7 linked regions of the Homo sapiens genome follow. The protein of the gene in region 4 interacts with the protein of the main gene of each other region in a biochemical or structural test. Each region holds a gene or a part of one and is shown on either strand. Other genes may lie near its edges. The genes, in order: PITX1, MECP2, RAP1A, SMARCA2, MYB, KHDRBS1 and SDCBP.

What was found.
Region 1: the proteins of SMARCA2 (region 4) and PITX1 form a complex in vitro, tested with the Homo sapiens proteins (one study listed by BioGRID).
Region 2: the proteins of SMARCA2 (region 4) and MECP2 form a complex in vitro, tested with the Homo sapiens proteins (one study listed by BioGRID).
Region 3: the proteins of SMARCA2 (region 4) and RAP1A form a complex in vitro, tested with the Homo sapiens proteins (one study listed by BioGRID).
Region 5: the proteins of SMARCA2 (region 4) and MYB form a complex in vitro, tested with the Homo sapiens proteins (one study listed by BioGRID).
Region 6: the proteins of SMARCA2 (region 4) and KHDRBS1 form a complex in vitro, tested with the Homo sapiens proteins (one study listed by BioGRID).
Region 7: the proteins of SMARCA2 (region 4) and SDCBP interact in a surface display test, tested with the Homo sapiens proteins (one study listed by IntAct).

The regions. Positions count from the first base shown.
Region 1 is NC_000005.10:135,027,234-135,031,228, reverse strand, and holds the end of PITX1 (pituitary homeobox 1), read left to right. Parts: intron 1-1,907; coding exon 1,908-2,450; 3' UTR 2,451-3,495; downstream 3,496-3,995. UniProt on the Homo sapiens protein: Sequence-specific transcription factor that binds gene promoters and activates their transcription. May play a role in the development of anterior structures, and in particular, the brain and facies and in specifying the identity or structure of hindlimb.
Region 2 is NC_000023.11:154,024,718-154,028,217, reverse strand, and holds part of MECP2 (methyl-CpG-binding protein 2), read left to right. Parts: 3' UTR 1-3,500. UniProt on the Homo sapiens protein: Chromosomal protein that binds to methylated DNA. It can bind specifically to a single methyl-CpG pair. It is not influenced by sequences flanking the methyl-CpGs.
Region 3 is NC_000001.11:111,703,289-111,706,788, forward strand, and holds part of RAP1A (ras-related protein Rap-1A precursor), read left to right. Parts: intron 1-47; coding exon 48-188; intron 189-1,054; coding exon 1,055-1,198; intron 1,199-3,500. UniProt on the Homo sapiens protein: Counteracts the mitogenic function of Ras, at least partly because it can interact with Ras GAPs and RAF in a competitive manner. Together with ITGB1BP1, regulates KRIT1 localization to microtubules and membranes.
Region 4 is NC_000009.12:2,081,347-2,084,846, forward strand, and holds part of SMARCA2 (SWI/SNF-related matrix-associated actin-dependent regulator of chromatin subfamily A member 2), read left to right. Parts: intron 1-485; coding exon 486-649; intron 650-2,000; coding exon 2,001-2,067; intron 2,068-2,739; coding exon 2,740-2,850; intron 2,851-3,500. UniProt on the Homo sapiens protein: ATPase involved in transcriptional activation and repression of select genes by chromatin remodeling (alteration of DNA-nucleosome topology).
Region 5 is NC_000006.12:135,194,808-135,198,307, forward strand, and holds part of MYB (transcriptional activator Myb), read left to right. Parts: intron 1-152; exon of another isoform or gene 153-274; intron 275-940; coding exon 941-1,195; intron 1,196-1,918; exon of another isoform or gene 1,919-2,101; intron 2,102-2,153; coding exon 2,154-2,516; intron 2,517-3,500. UniProt on the Homo sapiens protein: Transcriptional activator; DNA-binding protein that specifically recognize the sequence 5'-YAAC[GT]G-3'. Plays an important role in the control of proliferation and differentiation of hematopoietic progenitor cells.
Region 6 is NC_000001.11:32,023,868-32,027,367, forward strand, and holds part of KHDRBS1 (KH domain-containing, RNA-binding, signal transduction-associated protein 1), read left to right. Parts: intron 1-3,500. UniProt on the Homo sapiens protein: Recruited and tyrosine phosphorylated by several receptor systems, for example the T-cell, leptin and insulin receptors. Once phosphorylated, functions as an adapter protein in signal transduction cascades by binding to SH2 and SH3 domain-containing proteins.
Region 7 is NC_000008.11:58,566,761-58,570,260, forward strand, and holds part of SDCBP (syntenin-1), read left to right. Parts: intron 1-3,500. UniProt on the Homo sapiens protein: Multifunctional adapter protein involved in diverse array of functions including trafficking of transmembrane proteins, neuro and immunomodulation, exosome biogenesis, and tumorigenesis.

The sequences.
Region 1 (3,995 bases), on a different chromosome or scaffold from region 4:
GGCCGCCTCTGCTGCAGCCCTCCAAAGCTTAGACCCACAAGCAGAACTTCACTCTCCCACCATTCAGACCTGCTCCCTCCCTCCACCGGAGATCCCCACCTTAGGCCCTGGCCCACTAGCGTCTGCCAGGCCTCCAGGCGCCTCGGACCTTCAACCCCTTTGACCCTCATCCTACCTGATCCTCGGACTAAGGCAACCCCAGCCCAAAGACCTGTGCCCCCAGGGGACTCCCCCATGCCCTATGGGGCCCAGGACCCACTCAGATGTTAGCAGGATACCCTGGGCCAGAGACTGGGCAGTGGATTCCCTGCCGCTGGGGACCTCGGGAGCTGTTGGCCTTATCCCGAAAACGAAAGGGAAAGGCAGGTCCTGTCTGGCTGCCTCGGAGAAGCCTGAAAGGTGCCTGGGTTTGGGGCTCTCAAAACTTCCTGGAGCAGTGGTCCCATCTCATAAGCAGATTCTCTAAAAGCTCAAGATATTCTCCACCCTCCCCAGCCATCAGTAGGACCCTTTGCCTTCTGCCCTTTCCGGAAGGTCTCCCGTCAGGTGAGGTGGGGGGTGGCTCCGGGAGCCAAATGTCCTTCCCAGTCCCTTTTAGGATATGCCATCTCAGACCCAAGACCAGCCTGCATTCTCCCTCTTCTCACCCGTTTGGTTTCCAGTAAAAGCAAGGCTTTCCTGCCAGGGTAGCAAGAGAATCATTTCTTCCCTGGGGGCGTAAATATTTAATCAGATATTGGGAGCACCTCCCAAGTCGACCAAAATCCCAGCTGGCCCACAGACTCCTTACCATAACCCCAGCCCTCACCCCTCCCTAGGCAGGCTGGCCAGCCCAGTGGGACTTGGAATGAAGACACAGCACTCAGTAATCCTGAACTCACTAATCCTGCCCAGGTTTATGGTGGTAGGGGTGGGTGGGGGTGGAATCAGGTAGTGTCAGTGCTGGGGACTAGGGAAAGCTGAGAAGCAGGGATCTGGCAAACTAGCTCAGGAAACTCCACTCAGAACTGGAGGAAAATCCGAGTGGGCAGAGGGCATGCGGTAGGCAGATAGGTAAGGATGGGGGAGGACTAGGAGGTTCTTACCAAATTTGGGGGGAGAAAAGGAAGGGCAGGAAGATTAGAAGAATCTAGTAAGAATAGAAAAAATTTAAATATTTGTGGAGAAACATATTTGGCATATATTTAGGCGGCAGGAAAGAAATTAAATAGGAAGCAAAAAGATCAGGTATTTGAGAAAAAGAATCAACTGTTTAAGGGGAACAGTGCAGGTCAGATATTTGGAAAGGATTCAAAAGCCTAATATTTGAGGACGATTCAAAAGGATCAAAAATGGGGGATAAACAAGAAAACAGACTGAGGGAGAAGAAAGAGGTTCAGACAGTGGGGTGGACTGAACGAAAATAAACATTTGGAGCCAAAAAGAAAACATCAAATATTGCCGATAAAGATGATAACAAACTATTTGAGCGATGAAATAGATCGAAGAATTGGGGGAGTCGGAAAGTCCTATGTCTCAGGGAGGAAAAATACCTTTTGTATTTGAGGGAGAATAAAAAGACTGAAATATTTAGTAGATAGAGCGAACCTGTTTGGGGGAGAAGGCAGAGGTGAACTGGTTGAGAGAGGAAGAAAGAAAACGAATATCTGTTAAACGAGAATCCGTATTCGGAGAAGAAAACGGATATAATTTCGGGAGAGGATAAAGATCGGAAAAAGAAATTAGTATTTTCTGGGGACAGGAAAGGAACCATTGTGGAGGGAATGCAGGAGCGGAAATATCGGTCGAAGGAGAGAAACGACGTTCGGAGGGCAGCGGGCCGACGGAAGGCTCCAGGCGGTGGGGAAGGGGGTGGGGTCCCTCCCGGCCCGCAGCGGCCCTGACCCTTCTCCCGTCCCCTCCCCCAGGTCTGGTTCAAGAACCGGCGAGCCAAGTGGCGTAAGCGCGAGCGTAACCAGCAGCTGGACCTGTGCAAGGGTGGCTACGTGCCGCAGTTCAGCGGCCTAGTGCAGCCCTACGAGGACGTGTACGCCGCCGGCTACTCCTACAACAACTGGGCCGCCAAGAGCCTGGCGCCAGCGCCGCTCTCCACCAAGAGCTTCACCTTCTTCAACTCCATGAGCCCGCTGTCGTCGCAGTCCATGTTCTCAGCACCCAGCTCCATCTCCTCCATGACCATGCCGTCCAGCATGGGCCCAGGCGCCGTGCCTGGCATGCCCAACTCGGGCCTCAACAACATCAACAACCTCACCGGCTCCTCGCTCAACTCGGCCATGTCGCCGGGCGCTTGCCCGTACGGCACTCCCGCCTCGCCCTACAGCGTCTACCGGGACACGTGCAACTCGAGCCTAGCCAGCCTGCGGCTCAAGTCCAAACAGCACTCGTCGTTTGGCTACGGCGGCCTGCAGGGCCCGGCCTCGGGCCTCAACGCGTGCCAGTACAACAGCTGACCGCCCCGCCGCACCACGCGGGCCGGCGGCCGGAGCGGGGAAGGGCGCGGGCGCGGGCGCGGAGGACGCACGCGGGGCCCCGGCTCGCAAGCCCCAGCTCACCGCGCCGCGGACCTCACACCTGCGCAGCCCCCTCCTCCCACTTCCCACTCCGGGTTGGTTTTGTGTTTGCTTTTCCGGACCCCACTCTGCCCTCCAAAAAGACAAAAAAAAAAAAAAAAAAAAAAAAGCAAAAAGACGTCGGAGAAAAGTGCCGCGAAAAAATGGATGAGTTGCAATTTCTCTCGGGATGGCGCGGGTGGTGTGTGTGTTCCCACGGGCCCCGGAGGCCCACTCCGCGGAGGGCACGCGGCGCGGTAGGCGAGCGCCGAGGCCCAGCGGCCGGGGGAGGACGACCTCGTATCCCGCGTCCCCGCCGCGCTGGATCCGGACTGAGTGGCCGGGCCTGCGGACTGGATGTGCGGGGCCTGGACTTGCCTAGGATTTCCCGACCCCGTACAAACCAAGTTGCCCTCTCCGAGCTAGGCCCGGCCGAGAGCGCCTTAGCTCGAGTCGGATCCGTGTTGGGGCGGGCGTTGGGTTTGGGGGGACGGTGCCCCCAGCCCAGGATCGGGCACTCAGTGGAGCCGCACACGGCCCCGGCGCGCCTGGTAGAGCCTCGCTGGCCCCGCGCCCCGGAGCCCTATATTAAGGCCACGGAGCGACAGCGGGCAGTGCGGGCCTGGCGGGAGGTGGGGGAGGTCCATCTCAGAACACCCCAGCCTTGAGCTTAGCTGCAGGCCCAGGCCCTCTGCTCTGCTCCCGGGCTAGGAGGTGGCCCTCTGTCTGGGCGAACAGCCCCCTCCTCACCGCCCGCCGTGCAAGAGTCGAGCCGGCAGAGCAAGGGGCGCGGCCCCAGGGCCCTGCGCCCACTTTGCACACCCGCTCTCCGGCCCGCGCCCCTGTTTACAGCGTCCCTGTGTATGTTGGACTGACTGTAATAAATCTGTCTATATCGACTTGTCCATGTACGTCTATTAAAACCATAGTCCGAGCGTGCTAAGCACTGCTGAGCCCCGACTGCTTCATTGGGCTGAGGAGGGAGGCGGATAGAAAGGGAACTGTGGGTAGAAAGGGAACCGGGCCCCTTGGGTAGGAGCAGAGCGCCGAGGCAGCCCCCGCCGAGGTCTGCCTACCCCGCTTCCCCACCACCATTCTTGACCTGCTCAGCCTGGCTCCCATGAGGGCACCGTCCTGCGTTGCGAGCCTGTCCGGTGCGCACCCGCTAAGCTGTGCCTCTCGGCGTTGTCCGCGGGACGCCTTAGCGAGAACCCCCTCCCTCCGCGGCTGCGGGACTCTACGGGTTTCTTCCCAGGCCGGGTCTGCGGTGACCCTCGAGGCCCCAGGGTGCTATGGGGCCCTTGCCTGCCAGGAGCGTTCGGGCAGGGGCTGCTGAGAGCCTCTTTATGCCTGGGGTTGCCTTTTCTTCTGTGGGCCCAGCAACAGCCCCTCTTCTCTCCTCGGAGCCAGGGCCAGGCTATTCCAGGAGGACTGAGGGGGCTGGAT
Region 2 (3,500 bases), on a different chromosome or scaffold from region 4:
CCACAGGCATGTCCCATGTGAGCTGCTGCCATGAACTGTCAAGTGTGTGTTGTCTTGTGTATTTCAGTTATTGTCCCTGGCTTCCTTACTATGGTGTAATCATGAAGGAGTGAAACATCATAGAAACTGTCTAGCACTTCCTTGCCAGTCTTTAGTGATCAGGAACCATAGTTGACAGTTCCAATCAGTAGCTTAAGAAAAAACCGTGTTTGTCTCTTCTGGAATGGTTAGAAGTGAGGGAGTTTGCCCCGTTCTGTTTGTAGAGTCTCATAGTTGGACTTTCTAGCATATATGTGTCCATTTCCTTATGCTGTAAAAGCAAGTCCTGCAACCAAACTCCCATCAGCCCAATCCCTGATCCCTGATCCCTTCCACCTGCTCTGCTGATGACCCCCCCAGCTTCACTTCTGACTCTTCCCCAGGAAGGGAAGGGGGGTCAGAAGAGAGGGTGAGTCCTCCAGAACTCTTCCTCCAAGGACAGAAGGCTCCTGCCCCCATAGTGGCCTCGAACTCCTGGCACTACCAAAGGACACTTATCCACGAGAGCGCAGCATCCGACCAGGTTGTCACTGAGAAGATGTTTATTTTGGTCAGTTGGGTTTTTATGTATTATACTTAGTCAAATGTAATGTGGCTTCTGGAATCATTGTCCAGAGCTGCTTCCCCGTCACCTGGGCGTCATCTGGTCCTGGTAAGAGGAGTGCGTGGCCCACCAGGCCCCCCTGTCACCCATGACAGTTCATTCAGGGCCGATGGGGCAGTCGTGGTTGGGAACACAGCATTTCAAGCGTCACTTTATTTCATTCGGGCCCCACCTGCAGCTCCCTCAAAGAGGCAGTTGCCCAGCCTCTTTCCCTTCCAGTTTATTCCAGAGCTGCCAGTGGGGCCTGAGGCTCCTTAGGGTTTTCTCTCTATTTCCCCCTTTCTTCCTCATTCCCTCGTCTTTCCCAAAGGCATCACGAGTCAGTCGCCTTTCAGCAGGCAGCCTTGGCGGTTTATCGCCCTGGCAGGCAGGGGCCCTGCAGCTCTCATGCTGCCCCTGCCTTGGGGTCAGGTTGACAGGAGGTTGGAGGGAAAGCCTTAAGCTGCAGGATTCTCACCAGCTGTGTCCGGCCCAGTTTTGGGGTGTGACCTCAATTTCAATTTTGTCTGTACTTGAACATTATGAAGATGGGGGCCTCTTTCAGTGAATTTGTGAACAGCAGAATTGACCGACAGCTTTCCAGTACCCATGGGGCTAGGTCATTAAGGCCACATCCACAGTCTCCCCCACCCTTGTTCCAGTTGTTAGTTACTACCTCCTCTCCTGACAATACTGTATGTCGTCGAGCTCCCCCCAGGTCTACCCCTCCCGGCCCTGCCTGCTGGTGGGCTTGTCATAGCCAGTGGGATTGCCGGTCTTGACAGCTCAGTGAGCTGGAGATACTTGGTCACAGCCAGGCGCTAGCACAGCTCCCTTCTGTTGATGCTGTATTCCCATATCAAAAGACACAGGGGACACCCAGAAACGCCACATCCCCCAATCCATCAGTGCCAAACTAGCCAACGGCCCCAGCTTCTCAGCTCGCTGGATGGCGGAAGCTGCTACTCGTGAGCGCCAGTGCGGGTGCAGACAATCTTCTGTTGGGTGGCATCATTCCAGGCCCGAAGCATGAACAGTGCACCTGGGACAGGGAGCAGCCCCAAATTGTCACCTGCTTCTCTGCCCAGCTTTTCATTGCTGTGACAGTGATGGCGAAAGAGGGTAATAACCAGACACAAACTGCCAAGTTGGGTGGAGAAAGGAGTTTCTTTAGCTGACAGAATCTCTGAATTTTAAATCACTTAGTAAGCGGCTCAAGCCCAGGAGGGAGCAGAGGGATACGAGCGGAGTCCCCTGCGCGGGACCATCTGGAATTGGTTTAGCCCAAGTGGAGCCTGACAGCCAGAACTCTGTGTCCCCCGTCTAACCACAGCTCCTTTTCCAGAGCATTCCAGTCAGGCTCTCTGGGCTGACTGGGCCAGGGGAGGTTACAGGTACCAGTTCTTTAAGAAGATCTTTGGGCATATACATTTTTAGCCTGTGTCATTGCCCCAAATGGATTCCTGTTTCAAGTTCACACCTGCAGATTCTAGGACCTGTGTCCTAGACTTCAGGGAGTCAGCTGTTTCTAGAGTTCCTACCATGGAGTGGGTCTGGAGGACCTGCCCGGTGGGGGGGCAGAGCCCTGCTCCCTCCGGGTCTTCCTACTCTTCTCTCTGCTCTGACGGGATTTGTTGATTCTCTCCATTTTGGTGTCTTTCTCTTTTAGATATTGTATCAATCTTTAGAAAAGGCATAGTCTACTTGTTATAAATCGTTAGGATACTGCCTCCCCCAGGGTCTAAAATTACATATTAGAGGGGAAAAGCTGAACACTGAAGTCAGTTCTCAACAATTTAGAAGGAAAACCTAGAAAACATTTGGCAGAAAATTACATTTCGATGTTTTTGAATGAATACGAGCAAGCTTTTACAACAGTGCTGATCTAAAAATACTTAGCACTTGGCCTGAGATGCCTGGTGAGCATTACAGGCAAGGGGAATCTGGAGGTAGCCGACCTGAGGACATGGCTTCTGAACCTGTCTTTTGGGAGTGGTATGGAAGGTGGAGCGTTCACCAGTGACCTGGAAGGCCCAGCACCACCCTCCTTCCCACTCTTCTCATCTTGACAGAGCCTGCCCCAGCGCTGACGTGTCAGGAAAACACCCAGGGAACTAGGAAGGCACTTCTGCCTGAGGGGCAGCCTGCCTTGCCCACTCCTGCTCTGCTCGCCTCGGATCAGCTGAGCCTTCTGAGCTGGCCTCTCACTGCCTCCCCAAGGCCCCCTGCCTGCCCTGTCAGGAGGCAGAAGGAAGCAGGTGTGAGGGCAGTGCAAGGAGGGAGCACAACCCCCAGCTCCCGCTCCGGGCTCCGACTTGTGCACAGGCAGAGCCCAGACCCTGGAGGAAATCCTACCTTTGAATTCAAGAACATTTGGGGAATTTGGAAATCTCTTTGCCCCCAAACCCCCATTCTGTCCTACCTTTAATCAGGTCCTGCTCAGCAGTGAGAGCAGATGAGGTGAAAAGGCCAAGAGGTTTGGCTCCTGCCCACTGATAGCCCCTCTCCCCGCAGTGTTTGTGTGTCAAGTGGCAAAGCTGTTCTTCCTGGTGACCCTGATTATATCCAGTAACACATAGACTGTGCGCATAGGCCTGCTTTGTCTCCTCTATCCTGGGCTTTTGTTTTGCTTTTTAGTTTTGCTTTTAGTTTTTCTGTCCCTTTTATTTAACGCACCGACTAGACACACAAAGCAGTTGAATTTTTATATATATATCTGTATATTGCACAATTATAAACTCATTTTGCTTGTGGCTCCACACACACAAAAAAAGACCTGTTAAAATTATACCTGTTGCTTAATTACAATATTTCTGATAACCATAGCATAGGACAAGGGAAAATAAAAAAAGAAAAAAAAGAAAAAAAAACGACAAAT
Region 3 (3,500 bases), on a different chromosome or scaffold from region 4:
ATTCAAGAAATTTATATATTTATAATTGCATATTTTTTAAATCATAGGAGCAATTTACAGCAATGAGGGATTTGTATATGAAGAACGGCCAAGGTTTTGCACTAGTATATTCTATTACAGCTCAGTCCACGTTTAACGACTTACAGGACCTGAGGGAACAGATTTTACGGGTTAAGGACACGGAAGATGTAAGTATTTTTTCTCTCTGTAAGATGTTATGCCATCTCTCTGTGGCCAAATAAAAAAGTGCCTGTTTTCTCTATTAGTAGAGGATTTGGAAGCTATCTACCACATGCCTGAAAGAGCCCCTGTGACCAAAAGAAAAAAATTTAACTTTCAAAATTAACCTCAAAATTATGTGGTGAGATGTTTAGAAAATGAGGACATATGTGATAAAGTACTCATTGTGCTATAGGTTAAAAAGTGCAGTAGAGGAAAAAGAGGAGCCAAAGAATACTTCATAGAAGTGGGACCTGAGTTGAGCTTTGAAAGGTGATGGTTGTGTCAGAAACAGTGTTCAAAGAACATTATTAAGATCCATAGTGGTGTGTTTTTATTTCTAAAATTCCATTGGTATAATTCACACATCACAGTCTACCTCCCGGGCTCAAGTGATCTTCCCACCTCAACCCCCTGAGTAGTTGGGACTACAGGTGTGTGCCACCCTGCCTGGCTGATTGTTTTTGAATTTTTTAGTAGAGACCAGGTCTCACTATGTTACCCAGGCTTGTCTCAGGCTCCTGAGCTCAAGCAGTCCTCCTACCTCAGCCTCCCTGGGATTACAGGCATGAACCATTGTGCCTGGCCAGGATTATATTCTTAAAATAATTTGGCATATCTATGTAGTAGGATCTCTTCCATTTTTTTTTTTTTTTTGTCTCTTCCTTCTTCCTTCGCCTCTTCCCCTCAACATATACTTTTCGTTAGTATTTGATGAAGCTTGCGGTCCCAACTAATGCATTTCAGTTGGTGGCAGATAATTGCTTATTTATTTTTTTAAAAGGCTAAGTAATGAGTATGTTATTGTTCATTTTACGTTTTTTTCTTCCCACAGGTTCCAATGATTTTGGTTGGCAATAAATGTGACCTGGAAGATGAGCGAGTAGTTGGCAAAGAGCAGGGCCAGAATTTAGCAAGACAGTGGTGTAACTGTGCCTTTTTAGAATCTTCTGCAAAGTCAAAGATCAATGTTAATGAGGTAACCTACAACTGCTGGGCAGCACAAACAAGTGCCTTTTTAGTTTGCTTTAAGTTAACAGCCAGACTTTTAAGAAAAAATTTTTATCTTTTAAGCAATCTTGATTCCATAATTTTATAGGAAACACTAAGTAATTCCTGGAAACTATATTTTTTAGCTTGCATAAGGTCACTTTGATGGCTGTATGAGGATACTTAAATTTACCTTATTGTAAAAGAGGAAGCTAAAATTGAAGAATGTGTGTAAAATCCTGCTAAGCCTCTAAGTGATATGCGATAAAGTGGTGTGTAAAAATTGTTACATCACCTTATATTGTAATAATTATTTACCCAAATGTATATAAATAGGTTGTAAAGTCAAGTTGGAAAATAATATGTTTTTATGGATATCACAGAATTGTGTTCTGAGTCTTACCTCACCTTTGGTGCATGACTCATAAGTGGGTAATCTGTGTGGGTATGGACATGTACCTGGAATTCACTCAGTCCTTTAGGCCTGATACAGCTGATGCACAAGGCTTTTGTGTGGGGCATGGGGGTGGGGTCACTGGGTTAAGCACTCCACTATCTTGAAAACAGCTGTGGACAAGAATACTTAGCAAATAAGCTGCATGCCTGGGTGTAAAGGGCCAACAGTTTACTAGTTTACTGGGCCCCTAAAAATTTAGAGCAATTTCCAACTGTCCCCACCAGTCAACCTTAAATAGTTCCCTTGCTTTTGTTAACCTTAACATAAGCCTTTTAAAAAAATAAAAACAACAGAGTGGGCTTCTTTCCTGCCGTTGCTTTTGCCATTTGTAGCATTACAGGTAATCAGTCAGAATTCAGATCACTTAACTACATAGGTGAGAGTGAGAGTGGGTTAAGTTATGAGTCCTCTGTTTTTGCTATTCTCTCTGGCCTGTGGTTCTGCTGGCCACTTTTTCTTGACTAATATTATGCTTATAGACTATTTGACTTTTAAAAATGACCAGGTTACTTTAAACACCTGGCAGGTAAAAAAAAATTAAGCTTGCTTCAACTTCTGTATTTTACAGATAATCAAGAATGCCAAAGCTTGTTTTTTTATGTGAAACCATTTTTAACAAGTACATAAAAACAAGAAATTTATAAATTGTATTTATTCAGCAAATATTTATTGACTATTGTGTGTCTGGCACTGTGTCAGGCCCTCAGGTAACAGTCACTCAGACAGACACTATTCCTGCCCTGAAGAAGTTTGCATCCTACTGGGGGAACAAGTCTTTCAGCAATAATTAAAGAAAAAAAGTGATTTTGATAAAGAATTTGTTAGAAATTGTGAATATGTTTGGCTAGCAGAACAGTGACATGAGGTCACTATCTACAAGATAATTGGCCTTACGGGATGTGGTTCCTTGCTGTCCTTGTCCTTACCTCCATGGGACCCACCAACCAAGTTCATCAGACTCCAGGCTCCGGTGGGGCTGGGTTGGGCCTGAGTCCAGTGCATAGGACTTCTCCCTTTGGGAGCCAGAGGACAGTACACTACATGTTTGTGAGAACCTACATGCTATTAAACTTCCTCTGGATTAGTTTCCAATGCAGCAGAGATACTTTTTCATAGCAGTCTTGTTAAAGCAGAGAGTTTATAAACGAGGGTTTATAAAAACAAACATAGAAAAACCATAAAATGAAATGCATTAGCCATCTCAAGAATCTTTACTTTTTGGAAAACATACAAACTTTATGCTCAGTTCTTGAGAGTGGGGAGAATGGAGCAGATAATTTGAGTTTCTTTTAATATTTTTCTCTTTATAACCCAATAATCCAGCTACAGGATTTCTTTGGTAGTTAATAGTTCCTCACACAACTTTTGCCTTGTAAATTTTTTTGTGAGTTTTGAATGCCTGAAGTATAGAGAGATACTTTCAAAAATTCACCTCTTGGCCTTAAATTTGAAAACAGACACCAGGACATACTGCTTGGCTAAAGAGCCCCCTAATTCATTCATATATATATATATATAATTTTTCAAAAACTCTTATTCACACCACTTTGCAACGTTCTTAAAGTAGTATATGGCTATGCCAGAATCACAGTAGTCTTAATCAAGAATTAATTGTTCTTTGCTGAGGCTGGAATAGTAATTGGAATCAAGACAACCCAATTTAGGAATGGGAGAGGGATTGAGAAACTCTATTCTGTGTTCCCTTTAGATTTTTCTATAGTTCAGAGAGATGAGGAAGAACCTAGGCTGGGGCCTTTCAGCATTTCTAACCAAATATTATAGTTCGAACTTGCCCTCATCACTGAACCATCTGCTGCTGTGAGGTAGGCAATGT
Region 4 (3,500 bases):
AAATGTCCTCCTGTGGTCCCAGCAGAGTGTCCCTGGCTCCCTGGTCAGTCCGCCTTTTCACTGAGGGGACCTCACCCATATTACCGAAAAGGCTGTTTTTAATAATCTGTGATCTGTGTGCCAAATCTGCCTTCACATTGGCTTTTTATTCTTGGAGTGGTTGGATTAGATTTTGGTTTGGGCTTTTTTCATTTATAATAATTCTAGAATGTCACATACTGTGAAATACTAAGTGTGGATGAGCGGCAAAGCTGCTTTAAAACTCACCTGTCAAGAAGCAAGAAGAGAGAAAGCTTACTCATGGAGAGAATGATCAGGCTCATATTTTACATTCTTTTTGCATTGGTGCTTCCCCCATTTTCCTACTGTGGGAAACCCAACATACAGCAGTGAGGAGTTAAGAAGTCACACCCTCACTTGGGTTGTATTAGGATTAATTACCTGTGCAGATCTTGGATAATTGAAGCAATTACTCTTCATTTCAGCTCCAGGGCCTGGAATGGATGGTTTCCCTGTATAATAACAACTTGAACGGAATCTTAGCCGATGAAATGGGGCTTGGAAAGACCATACAGACCATTGCACTCATCACTTATCTGATGGAGCACAAAAGACTCAATGGCCCCTATCTCATCATTGTTCCCCTTTCGTAAGTAAAGTCATTTATTCCACAGTCATCGTTCTGTATGTTGTAGAGTGCCCGATTAGTAGCTTGTCCTTGTTTTTTACTTAAGACAGAATTGTAGCATGTACTAACCTAAATCCAGATTACCAAGAGCATGTAATCTGGATTTAGGTTTTAATTTCCCACCCCTCCCCATCCTAGCCTGTTTGATTGGCTATTTAAGCACGGGACCGAGTGATTTTATCGGCCATCAGCATTACAGGTCTGCACAGCCTGAACACTGCATAGTGAGTCTTGCTCATCATTATTCCTTAAGTGGCTCACAAAGGGGAAAGGTGTGTGTGTGTGTGTGTGTGTGTGTGTGTGTGTGTGTGTGTGTGATTTCTTTGATTTTTTCCTTATTCCATTTCCAAAAGATGATATATTCTTAAATCTTCCTTTTAAAAGCAGAACATAAATCAAAATCATAACTAGGAGTTTTGCATTAAAATAACCTTAGTATGTGCACTGAGGTTATGTTTCAATGAGTTTGCTGCTTAGTAAGGACAGGAGTTTGCTGTTCGCCATTACGTTCCCAGTGCCTCACCTGCTAGGTGGTTCTTAGAAGGTCCTAAGTGGGCACTACCGAGTGAGGGCACAGTGATTCACAAGCACCCTCCTGGGAGTTCAGTGTGTCTGCCTGTGGGTGTTAGGTTGCAGTTTTGTTCACCAAGGTCTTGTTATAGATCTCAATGCTGATATGAACTTGGACCTTCAGTAAGAAGAAGGATTCTATTAATATTATTGTGTTTTCTTTGAATTTTTTCTAATGAAGACTATTTGCAGCCCTTTTTGTATGAATTATCTGTATCTGTAATATTTAGGCATCTTTTGCATTTGATCTATATTTTGCGTGTTCTGAATCATATATACAGTGACACTTTCAGGGCTTTAAAAAACGTCATTCAATATTTCTTCCCCTGTTCCCTCTTGACAGATTTATTTTATGTTTTCATGTGGTTTTATAATTTCTTTTTCCTGACTCATCTTTTTTCTGAACCTATATGGCTGTTTATGAAGATTCCTAAAATCATTCTGGCAATTGCTCTTTTTTAATATCATATTACAGTTTAGTTTTTTGCTCTCTATATTTATGTATTCTTTAGTTTTTTTCTTACAAGATTTTTTTATGAACCACAAACTTGTCATGTTTTGTGACAGTTTGTTTTGAACTTATCTCCTATTTCCACACCTTTAAAATAAATATCTTGTTGAGATATGTTATATTCTGTAGCCCCTTTCAAGGTGAGGCCTGAACATGAATAAGAACATCTTTTTAACCATTGATTTTTATACAAATGTCTTTTTTCTGTTGTTTTTTTTTTTTGTTCCATAGGACTCTATCTAACTGGACATATGAATTTGACAAATGGGCTCCTTCTGTGGTGAAGATTTCTTACAAGGTTTGGAATGCTGTATTTATATATAAATGTGGAAAAGCAAAAAATAGACCCTATTTTCTTCATTCCATATGCACATCTGTGAACTGTATTTGGTTGTAAAGTTTTGTCATGTACATCATGTACTAAACCGTGAGAGTTAATCATCCCAAGAAGATTACTGTAATAAACCATAATTACTTTCAGATAGTGAAATCCAGAAGAAAATTGTTAATTATCATATTGCAAGGTTTCTGATGAGAGTAATACAAATGACAAATATCACACATTCTGCGTGCTGCTGACTGGCTCGCTGTGGGCTGCTACTGTGCTGACTGTTCCTGCAAAGTCAGGCAATTACCCGGATGCCCGGGGCTGCCTGCTGTACTTTCTCAACAGAACTGGAGCCTTTCAGCAGAGCGGTGGGTTCTCTACTACCACAAATTCACTGTCATTTCCATTTCCCTTTGCCCTCCCACTGTCTTTGGTGGGAAAACCTTTCTAAAAAAAGATCTGAAAAGGGTCAAGACGTGTAATTTAGCCAAAACTTCCTCGTGTATAATAGATCAGTCTATGAGAATGTGTGTCTGTGCATTCTTCAGTCACATGTCTGGGCATCATTAAGCTATGAAAAGTGAGAAATAATGCACATATATGTCCATAGGATCATGCATGTATTTTTTTCTTTCCATTCAGGGTACTCCTGCCATGCGTCGCTCCCTTGTCCCCCAGCTACGGAGTGGCAAATTCAATGTCCTCTTGACTACTTATGAGTATATTATAAAAGACAAGCACATTCTTGCAAAGGTATGTTTTTAAAAAATTATTTTCTCTCTAATTAGGACCATTGCACTGGAATGTGAAGTATTGCCCAAGTCAGTAGTGTAATTGGATCCTTAGATGGCTTGTCCTTTTCTTTATTTTTCTAAAATTTTTTCAGAGTTTGATATGTTTTGGTCGTGGATTTGATTTCATGCATGCTGTGTGTGTGTGTGTGTGTGTGTGTGTGTGTGTGTGTGTGTGTGTGTTTATGATTGATCCTGGGGCGGCTCTTGTCTATCCCCTCAGAGTTGATGAGTTTACATCTCTTAAAAAAATTCACCTGGTTGCTTCTGCAACTCTTTTTCTCTCTAACAGCTTTGCACATTCTCGGGAAAGAAATAATTGTTTTTGTTGCCCTGAGATATTGTCAGTGTACCTTCATTCTTCTTGTGCCTTTGTTTCTCCAAAGATGAGCCAGACACCTCTCCATATGGTCTCCACCATATGAACATTTATCCAAGCCGTGGCTTTTGTGGTAGTCTTGTTTCAGGTTTTTCCTGGTGAAATAATAGACTATCATTGTTGGAGTTACTTAAGGTTGTTTCTGTGACTATTTATTTGAAACTGAGAAAGAGGTGTTTCTGTGACTTACATGTCTCCTAATTTTTATGTCCTAAGTTGTTCCTTAGCCACAA
Region 5 (3,500 bases), on a different chromosome or scaffold from region 4:
GTTTTTTTCTATTATTTTGTTAACCTATATTTTCATATTTTATAATTTCAGACATGATTTGATGCATGTTCAGTATATACATGTAAAAGGTTATATATAAAACCTCTTCATAAATAACATTAGCTGCTCTCTTTTATTTGCATGTGTGAAAGTTATGTGGGCCATTACTGAATTCTGACATCTTTAGCGACTGGGCAGCCAACTGGGATGGCTCCTTGTGCTTTGCAACATACATAGTTAACCAACAAAGACAATAAAAGAGAAGTGATGCCCAGTAGGTATTCCTAGGGGTAAATTTATTTTTTGTTAAATAATAAGATGTTTATGTGCACATGCTAGTTCGACCACTTTTTAACTTTAGTTAATGTTTTGCAATTTCTCCTGTTGTGTGGTCATACTGTAAGGAGACTTCTGTTAATTTGCTCTTCTGCTTTCCTAACCACGTTGATTTGGCAGTGCTTCACTGCATCAGTGCAATCTGTAGCATTAGAAAGGGATAGAAGCAACAAGAATATGTGTAGATCAAAGCAACTCTAACTCCTGAGTCCTCTAGCTTTTTTGTGGTTAGAATGCAAATAGGACAGTTCTTCAGTTCTTCACTCACAGCAAGCATTTATGGACCTTTGGCAAATTATATTAAAGTGGAATTTTAAGACAATATGATAATTATACTTCGAAATATAGACCTATGATTTGACATTTTTACAAAATGATAACAAGGTAATCATATAGGTACAACCTCTAGCACTATTAAAAACAGGGTCTTGCATTGATAAAAGGAAACATCTTGACAACTGTTTCATAGGCGTAAGTTTGGGATGATGCAACTACTCTTATCTTTCCTCCAACAGCATCTGATACCTTGTGCAACTTCATTGCTAAGTTCCTTCTCCCTTTCTTCTGTCCTCTCTTTATTTCTACACCCTTCCCCCTTCCTTAGACACAGAACCACACATGCAGCTACCCCGGGTGGCACAGCACCACCATTGCCGACCACACCAGACCTCATGGAGACAGTGCACCTGTTTCCTGTTTGGGAGAACACCACTCCACTCCATCTCTGCCAGCGGATCCTGGCTCCCTACCTGAAGAAAGCGCCTCGCCAGCAAGGTGCATGATCGTCCACCAGGGCACCATTCTGGATAATGTTAAGAACCTCTTAGAATTTGCAGAAACACTCCAATTTATAGATTCTGTAAGTAGAATTGTGAAGGGAAGTTAACGATTCTGGAAGATAAATTAGAAAACCCATTTCTTAAATCATTGCCATTTTCTATAGCCAAGCTGTTATTAGCATATATTAATGTAAAGGTAGAAGTATGATTTTCATCTTCATGAATATGTTTTTTCAAAGATCTGATTTCATAGCCTACCGAGAGAGACAAAAGTATTTATAAATACTTACAAAATAGGACTTTTGAAGGAAGAGTTTTTTTTCACATTTTCACACTTTTCCTTCAAAAGTCATATTTTTAAAAATAGTCAGATTGATGACTTATAAAGCAGAGCTTGGATTATGGGAACGGAATGGTGTTTGAGTTACTTTTAACTTTTTTTTTTCTTTGCTTACTTCATGGTGCTTCTCTAGAATTTTGTCTTGCTTTTGAACAGCACATTAATGATTTGGCTTACTCAGAGCTGAAAGCAATCTTTTAGTGTATTTGAAGTAATAATCAGCTCCTTGGTCATACCTGGCTCTTTCCACAAAATGGTGATTATTGATTACTGGTCCCATTGCTTCACTGAGATGAATCATCTTTCGTGAAACAAATTTGTATTCAGCACCTCCTCAGCGAACACTTGGTTCCTTTCCCAGTTGATTAAAAATCATTTATTGCACACTCATTGGTTAGGAGATGACCATTGCCGTAATATGCCATCTAGAAAAGGTCTTCATTTTGCTTTCCATTGCATGCAGATGTAGAGTGTCGGGAGGTCCCTGCAGCACATCAGAGGGCCAGCCTTGAGGCAGCCCACTAGACCCTGCTCTACTGCAGTATAATAGAGCAACTGCTCATCTTGAAGCTGTTGCTCAAGAAGCCAAACCAACGGGCCTAGTGTTTGCTTTGCGTTGAGCATCTCTCTCTCAGTGCTGTTTCAGGTGATGATGGCACACACTATCTCAAAGTTCTGTGCCTCCCACATTGTTTCAGGATTCTTCATCATGGTGTGATCTCAGCAGTTTTGAATTCTTTGAAGAAGCAGATTTTTCACCTAGCCAACATCACACAGGCAAAGCCCTACAGCTTCAGCAAAGAGAGGGCAATGGGACTAAACCTGCAGGAGAACCTAGCCCAAGGGTGAACAAACGTATGTTGAGTGAGAGTTCACTTGACCCACCCAAGGTCTTACCTCCTGCAAGGCACAGCACAATTCCACTGGTCATCCTTCGAAAAAAACGGGGCCAGGCCAGCCCCTTAGCCACTGGAGACTGTAGCTCCTTCATATTTGCTGACGTCAGCAGTTCAACTCCCAAGCGTTCCCCTGTCAAAAGCCTACCCTTCTCTCCCTCGCAGGTAGAACACAATTTCTGCACAGCTGTTACTCATTTTCAACAGACACCTGAGCCTTAATAATCTAGAAACTAATACTTCGGAACAAATGACTAATTACTGCTGCCTTTGCTGATTTCATTCTGTCGTTGAATCTAGCTGTTGCTAAGTTATACTGCCTCCCAAAGTTTAGGCTGTCTGCAGGCTAACTGTTGATTTTGGCATCATTCTCTCTCTTTTACTTTTGGGTGGTTTTGAAAGATAGTTGCATGAAACGTACTTTTATTTCCTTCAACACTAGAGTTTAACATTTCTGTCCCTTTCTTTTTCTCCCATCTGATCCCTCCCTTTAAAATTGTTAACATCATTTCTTCCTCGTTGTTCATTTATTCTTATGCGATTCACTGACCCAGGGGAGGAGGGAACCAAATTGTGTTTATATAACATTTGGGTTGCAACTAGAAAATTTAAAGCTAGAAAATTTAAAGGTTCCAATTCATCTTTAAATGGAAGAGTTTGGGAAGAGGATGAGAAACAAATGCTTAAGGAAAAGAACATATTTTTAATTTCAGTTTCTCAACATTGGCTCTTTTGAGTTGTGCCATACTATTTTACTAGTGCAGTTTTTGCCAAGGAATATTTTTATTTCATACAGCTTTTTTAAGGCATGAAAATCACAATTCTTATCAGAGATTTGTGTTCCTAAATTATTTAAATAATTAAATTAATAGATAATTTGGCACTTTAAAACATTTTTCCAATTGTATCTGTTGAATTTGTTTTAAGAACAGATTTAGGTATGATATAGGTATATACATTTGGGAAACACTGAATCAAACAAAGTTACAAGTAGGTTTCTTAGCTGGGCATAGTGGCATGGGCCTGTAGTCCTAGCTACTGGGGAAGCTAAGGCAAGAGGATTGCTTAAGCACAGGAGTTCAAGTTCAGCCTGGTGAACATAGCGAGATCCCATTTCTTTAAAAACTTTCTTTTTTTTAACTGCAGGCC
Region 6 (3,500 bases), on a different chromosome or scaffold from region 4:
AATTTTATAAAAGTCAGCTCTTCCTTGCTTAAATAAAGTGTGCCCCCCACAAACACACACTCATCAAGAGACAATAGGAAAAGCATGAAATTAGAAGTTAGAGGCCTGGCGCGGTGGCTCACGCCTGTAATTCCAGCACTTTGGGAGGCCAAGGTGGGTGGATCACCTGAGATCAGGAGTTGAAGACCAGCCTGGCCAACATGGTGAAACCTTTTTTCTACTAAAAATACAAAATTTAGCTGGGCGTGGTGGCAGATGCTTGTAATCCCAGCTACTCAGGAGGCTGAGGTAGGGAGAATTGCTTGAACCTGGGAGGCAGAGGTTGCAGTGAGCTGAGATTGTGCCACTGCACTCCAGCCTGGGCGACAGAGTGAGACTTCGTTTCAAAAAAAAAAAGTCAGAAAAGGCCTAAAGGCCTGAGTTTGGGGGTTTTCTAAAATTTTTTATTAATTTTTTTTTAGAGACAGGGTCTTGTTCTGTCACCCAAGCTGGAATGCAGTGGCGCCCATTATGGCTCACCACAGCCTCCAACTCCTGGGCTCAAGTGATCGTCCTGCCTCAGCCTCTCTAGTAACTGGGACAACAGTTGTACGCCACCACACTGAGCTAATTTAATTTATTTTTTTTTTTTTTAATTTTAGTAAAGATGGGATCTCACTCTGTTGCCCAGGCAGGTCTCAAGTTCCTGGGCTCAAGCAATCCTCCCACCTCGGCCTCCCAAAGTTCTGGGATTATAGATGTGAGCCCCTGTGCCCAGCCAGGCGTGGGTTTTTAATTCTTGTTCTGTTACTTTAACAATTTTATGACCTAGAGATAGTTATTTAACCTCTTTGAGTTTTTGTTGCCTCAGATGTAAGTAACTCAGTTCACTGAGTTATTTTTGAGGATTAATGAGGTAATAGTTCTATGGTATTTGATATATAGTAGGCATCAAATAAATATTCAGCCCTACCTGGGTAAGGTGGCACGCACCTTTAGTCCTAGCTACTGGGGAGGCTGAGGTGGGAGGATCACTTGAGCTCAGGAGTTCGAGGCTGCAGTGAACTATGATGGTGTCACTATGCTTCAGCCTAGGCAGTAGAGAACCCATCTCTTTAAAACAAACAAAAAAAAAGGCGGGGGGAGCATAGTAGGTCACGCCTATAATCCCAGCACTTTGGGAGGCCGAAGTGGAAGGATCATTTGAGCCCAGGAGTTCAAGACCAACCTGGGCAAAATAGGGAGACCCCATCTCTACAAATAAAAAAAATTAGCCAGGCATGGTGGCACGCGCCTATGGTTGCACCTACTGGGGGTGCTGAGGTGGGAGGATCGCCTGAACCCAGGAGGTTGAGGCTACAGTGAGCCATTATTGTGCCACTCATTCCAGCCTGGGTGACAGAGTGAGACCCTATCTCAAAAAAAAAAAAAAAATTCGGCTCCTCCTTTTTTTTTTTTTTTTTTTTTTTTTTGAGACAGAGTCTCGCTCTGTCACCCAGGCTAGAGTGCAGTGGCACGATCTCAGCTCACTGTGACCTCCGCCTCCCGGGTTCAAGCAATTCTTCTGTCTCAGCCTCCCAAACAGTTGGGACTACAGGCACACGCCACCATGCCCAGCTCATTTTTGTACTTTTAATAGAGATGGGGTTTCACTGTATTGGTCAGGCTGGTCTCGAACTCCTGACCTCAGGTGATCCACCCGCCTCAGCCTCCCAAAGTGCTGGAATTACAGGCATGAGCCACAGCGCCTGGCCCCCTCCACCCTTCTTGAAAGCTCGAGTAGCTTCTTAGTCTTCTGCTTGCTTCCTTTTCTTCCCTCTCCCTCTCCCTTCATCCCCTCCCTGCCTCCCTTCCTGCCCCCTCCCTTCTTCCCTCCCTCCCTTCCCTCCTTCCTTCCTCCCTTTCTCCCCTCTCCCCTCCTCTCTCCCTTCGATACCCAAGCTGGAGTGCAGTTGCACAGTCATCATAGTTCACTGCAGCCTTGAACTCTTGGGCTCAAGCGATCTTCCCACCACAGCCTCCTGAGTAGGTAGGATAATAGGCAGGTACCACTACACCCAGCTAATTTAAATATATATATATATTTATTTATTTATTTATTTATTTATTTTTGGTAGAGACAGGGTCTCGCTGTGTTGCCCAAGCTGGTCTCAAGCTCCTGGGCTCAAAGCAGTCATCCTGCTTCAGCCTCCCAAAGCACTGGGATTACAAGCGCATGTGCCACTGTGCCCAACCAGTCCTTTGCTTTGTAGGTTAAAATTCTGATTCTCTTTTCAACCCTCTGTTTTATTTAAATGATCCTTCTCTGAATTCTCTAAAAATGCTTTCCTTTGCTTTTTTGAGACAGGGCCTTACTCTGTCACCCAGGCTGGAATGCAGTGGCATGATCTTGGCTCACTACAGCCTCCAACTGCTTATCCTCCTGCCTCAGCCTCCCAAATAGCTGGGACCACAGGCGCATACCACCATGCCTGACTAATTTGTTATTTTTTATAGAGAAGGGGTCTCACTATGTTGCCCGCTCTGGTCCCAAACTCCTGGGCTCCAGTGATCCTTCTGCCTCAGCTTCCCCAAATGCTGAGATTACAAGTGTGAGCCACCATGCCTGGCCACTGCTATTCTTTAAAAAGTTGTGAAATAATTGGACAGAAGGATTCTAAGATCTGAGTAGTTCAAAAATAGAAGAATCCATGTTATAGAAAGGTCTTATACTATCACACTGGTCTTTAAGAAATGAAAAAATGAAAGGCCTTAAATTCACAGAGTGCATTACATTGCATATAAACACACCTTCTTGTAGGAGTATAGCAGATGAACAGACTTTGAATCGTCTTGCACTGACCAAGGTTTCTGGAAAGTGGTATAAAATACAGCTGAAAGGTCTAACTCAATGGTAGCCCTCGGAAGCACAAAGCGACATAGATAAAATGAAGTATCTAATTTGTTCCACATTCTTTTTTGTTGTTGTGATGGAGTCTTGCCCTATCGCCCAAGCTGGAGTGCAGTGGCGCAATCTGAGCTCACTGCAGCCTCTGCCTCCCGGGTTCCAGCGATTCTCCTCCCTCAGCCTCCTCGGTAGCTGGGATTACAGGTGCACACCACCACGCCTGGCTAATTTTTATATTTTTAGTAGAGACGGGGTTTCCCCATGTTGACCAAGCTGGTCTCGAATTTTTGACCTCAGGTGATCCGCCCACCTCAGCCTCCCAAACTGCTGGGATTACAGGCGTGAGCCAACGCGCCCGGTCTATGTATATATTTTTTTAGTAGAGATGGAGTTTCACCACGTTGGCCAGGCTGGTCTCGAACTCCTGACCTCAGGTGATTTGCCCACCTTGGCCTCCCAACGTGCTGGGATTACAGGCATGAGCCACCTCTCCTGGCCTGTTCCACATTATTAAAAGCTCCTTGGTGATGTTCTCAGATCAGAATTATGGCATCTTTGTTCTTCTAGGACTTTGAGGATTGAATAACTAAGTTTTCCAGTCTGAGAACTTAGAAAGTGGTGTAGTCAGGTACAG
Region 7 (3,500 bases), on a different chromosome or scaffold from region 4:
AAGGAAGGTAGTATTCATTTTCTCATCTGCTGGCCTTTAACACCACAGCAAAGCTAAATTACAGCAATGAACCAACCATTCATATTTTGTAAACTATTCTGCAGTAGCCACTAGGCTGTGGCTTTTAGCATCATACAGTCCCTAGACCTTTTTCTCTCCATTCCAAATCCTGACAAGAGCCTGTGGTTTCCTCTACTTATGCAAAGTAAGCTTTTAATAAATAATGATATACAGAACCAGAGCTTATCAGTTTCCTAATATGGTGGGCAGAATTTGGCAGCAGTGACGCTACAAGCATGTTTTTTCCACATCCTTTCTGTTAATGGCAGAAACAATAGGCCCTGGCATGCTCCTTGGGGCACCCCAACCCCTTTTTTTAGTAGTGTCACATTTCAAAGTAAGTTTGAAATAAGTAGCTACATTTAATGGTTTACAGTACTTAAAATTGGGTTACATCCTTTTGTTTCATTTTTACTGCAAATAACATAATTAAATTTAACTTTGCAGGGAGCTTTCTATATGTATTCTTCAGTATTCCTTGGATTAAAAACAATAGCAATGAAAGAACAGAAATTCATAACTACATACAAAGGAGAAGTATTTTAAATTAATAAGCTGTGTTTTAGAGCAATTTTAGATTCACAACAAAATTGATCAGAAAGTACAGTATACCTTCTGTCCTCACACATGCACAACCTCCCCCAGTATCAGCATCTGCACCAGAGCAGTACATCTGGCTCATTAATATCACCTGAAGTCTACATATTTACATTACATCACATTAGGGTTCACTGTTGGTGTTATATGTTCTGTGGATTTTGACAAATGTATAGTGACGTGTATATAGTCATGTGTTGCTTAAAGACGGATATGTTCTGAGAAATGCCTCATTAGACAGTTTTGTCGTGCAAACATTATAGAGTGTACTTCCACAAATGTAGATGGCATAGCCTACTACACATCTAGGCAGTATGGTATAGTCTGTTGTTCCTATGCTACAAACCTGTATGATCCCACCTGTATGATACAGTAATACTGCATGTTACTGTACTGAATACTGTAGGCAATTGTTACACAATAGTATTTGTGTATCTAAACACAGAAAAGGTATGGTAAAAATACAATGTAAAAGATTTAAAATGGTACATCTGTATAAGGCACTTACCATGAATGGAGCTTCCAGGACTAGAAGTTGCGCTGGGTAAGTCAGTGAGTGAGCGGTGAGTGAATGTGAGGCCTAGGACATTATTGTATACTGCTGTAGACTTTATCAATACTCTATACTTGGGCTGCACTAAATTTATTTAAAAATTTTTCTTTCTCGAATTATAAATTAACCTTAGCTTCCTGTAACTTTAATTTTTTAACTTTCTGACTCTTGTAATAACATAGTTTAAAACACAAACATTGTACAGCTGTATAAAATATTTTCTTTCTTTATATCCTGATTCTATAAGCTTTTTTCCTATTTTTTAAATTTTTAGTTTTTAAAAATCGCTTGTAAGTTTGTTAAAAACTGAGACACACACTCACATTAGCCTAGGCCTGCACAGGGTCAGGATCATCAATATCACTGTCTTCCACCTCCACATCATCCCACTGAAAGGTCTTCAGAGGCAGTAACATGCATGGAGTTGTCATTTCCAATGGTAATAGTGCCTTCTGGAATACCTCCTGAAGGACCTGCCTGAGACTGTTTTACAGTTAACTTTTTTTGTAAGTAGAAGGATATACTCTAAAGGGTATAACACAGGAAATACATAAATGAGTAACATAGTCATTTATTATTATCAAGTATTATGTACCATGCATAATTGTAGATGCTATACTTTTTTATATATGACTGGCAGTGCAGTAAGCTTATTTACACCACCATCACCACAAAGTAATGAGTTGTTCTGTGTGACGGCAGCTATGATGTCACTAGACAGTAGGAATTTTTTAGCTCTTTTATAATCTCATGGGACCACTATTGTATATGTGGTTCATCATTGACCAGAACAGGCAGCACATGACTGTATACCATTGTAGCATTAGACAGAATAGGTTCACTGCTCGAAAAATTCTTTAATGCCTGTTCTTCCTTCCCTTCTAGAAACTCCTGGCAACCAATAATTTGCTTTTGCTTTTGTGTTTTCTTTAGCGTCAGGATGTCGCTCTGTTGCCCAGGCTGGAGTACAGTGGCACAGTCATGGTTCACTGCAGCGTCCATCCTCCTGCCACAGCCTTCTAAGTAGCTGGGACTACAGGCATGCACCACCACACCTAGCTAGTTTAAAAAGAAAATTTTTTTTTCCCCCAAAACGGAGTCTGGCTCTGTCACCAGGCTGGAGTGCAGTGGTGCGATCTTGGCTCACTGCAACCTCCTCCTCCTGGGTTCAAGCAATTCTCCCTGCCTCAGCCTCCCGGGTAGCTGGAATTAACAGGCATCCACCACCATGCCCGGCTAATTTTTGTATGTTTACTAGAGACAGGGTTTTGCCATGTTGGCCATGACAAACATGACAACATGCCATGTTGGTCAGTTGAACTCCTGACTTCAGGTGATCTGCCCACCTCAGCCTACCAAAGTGCTGGGATTACAGGCATGAGCCACTGTGCCTGGCCAAAACAATTTTTTGCATAGGCAGGGTTTTCCTATGTTGCCCAGGCTGGTCTTGAACTCCAGGCCTCAAGCAACTCTCCAGCTTCAGCTTCCCAAAGTGCTGGGATTAAAGGCCTCAGCCACTGTGCCTGGCCTAATATTTTATTATCTCCACAATTTTGCATTTTTCAAAATGTCGTATAGTTGGAATCATAAAGTATGTAGCCTTTTGAGATTGGCTTCTTTCACTTAGTAATATCCACTTAAGTTTCCTCCATGTCTTTTCATGTCTTTATAGTTCTTTTTTTTTTCCCAGTGCCGCACAGTATTTTTTTTGTTAGACATGATTCAAGAAGTAATATAACAAGCCACTAGCTCCTTTTAGCTAATCGGTGGTGAAAGAACTTTCAAAGTTCAACACATGTTCAATTTGTGGATTGTTATTTATAATTATAAAGATTTTCATGCTGTATTTTGTTTAAATCTAGAATGTTTAACAAATTATGAAATAATAAATATTAAAGGATGACTCAACAAGTATATCAGAACATATAATTTTAGTACCATTCAAAGCTTTCATAGGCTTTACTTATTTAAACTAAGCTTTCATATCTCCAAGCATCTTTGGGAATACTCTTGACATTGATTTTAGGGCTAGGTTGAGATACTACTATGAACTTCATTTTTAAAATGATACATTTCCAATAAAGTAAAAAGTTGGTAGAGATTGGTCATACAACTTATTACCAAACTTGTCTCTAATGACATATAGCTATTTCAGAAAGTCAGATCTAATTGTAAAGGATAAAGTATTTCCATCAGTGAGATACTTCATATGATGTAGGCCATCAAGACAGCCCTGAGAAGAGGATACTTGAGCATGAGTAGCATTGATAAATGCTAGAGTGTCAGAGTG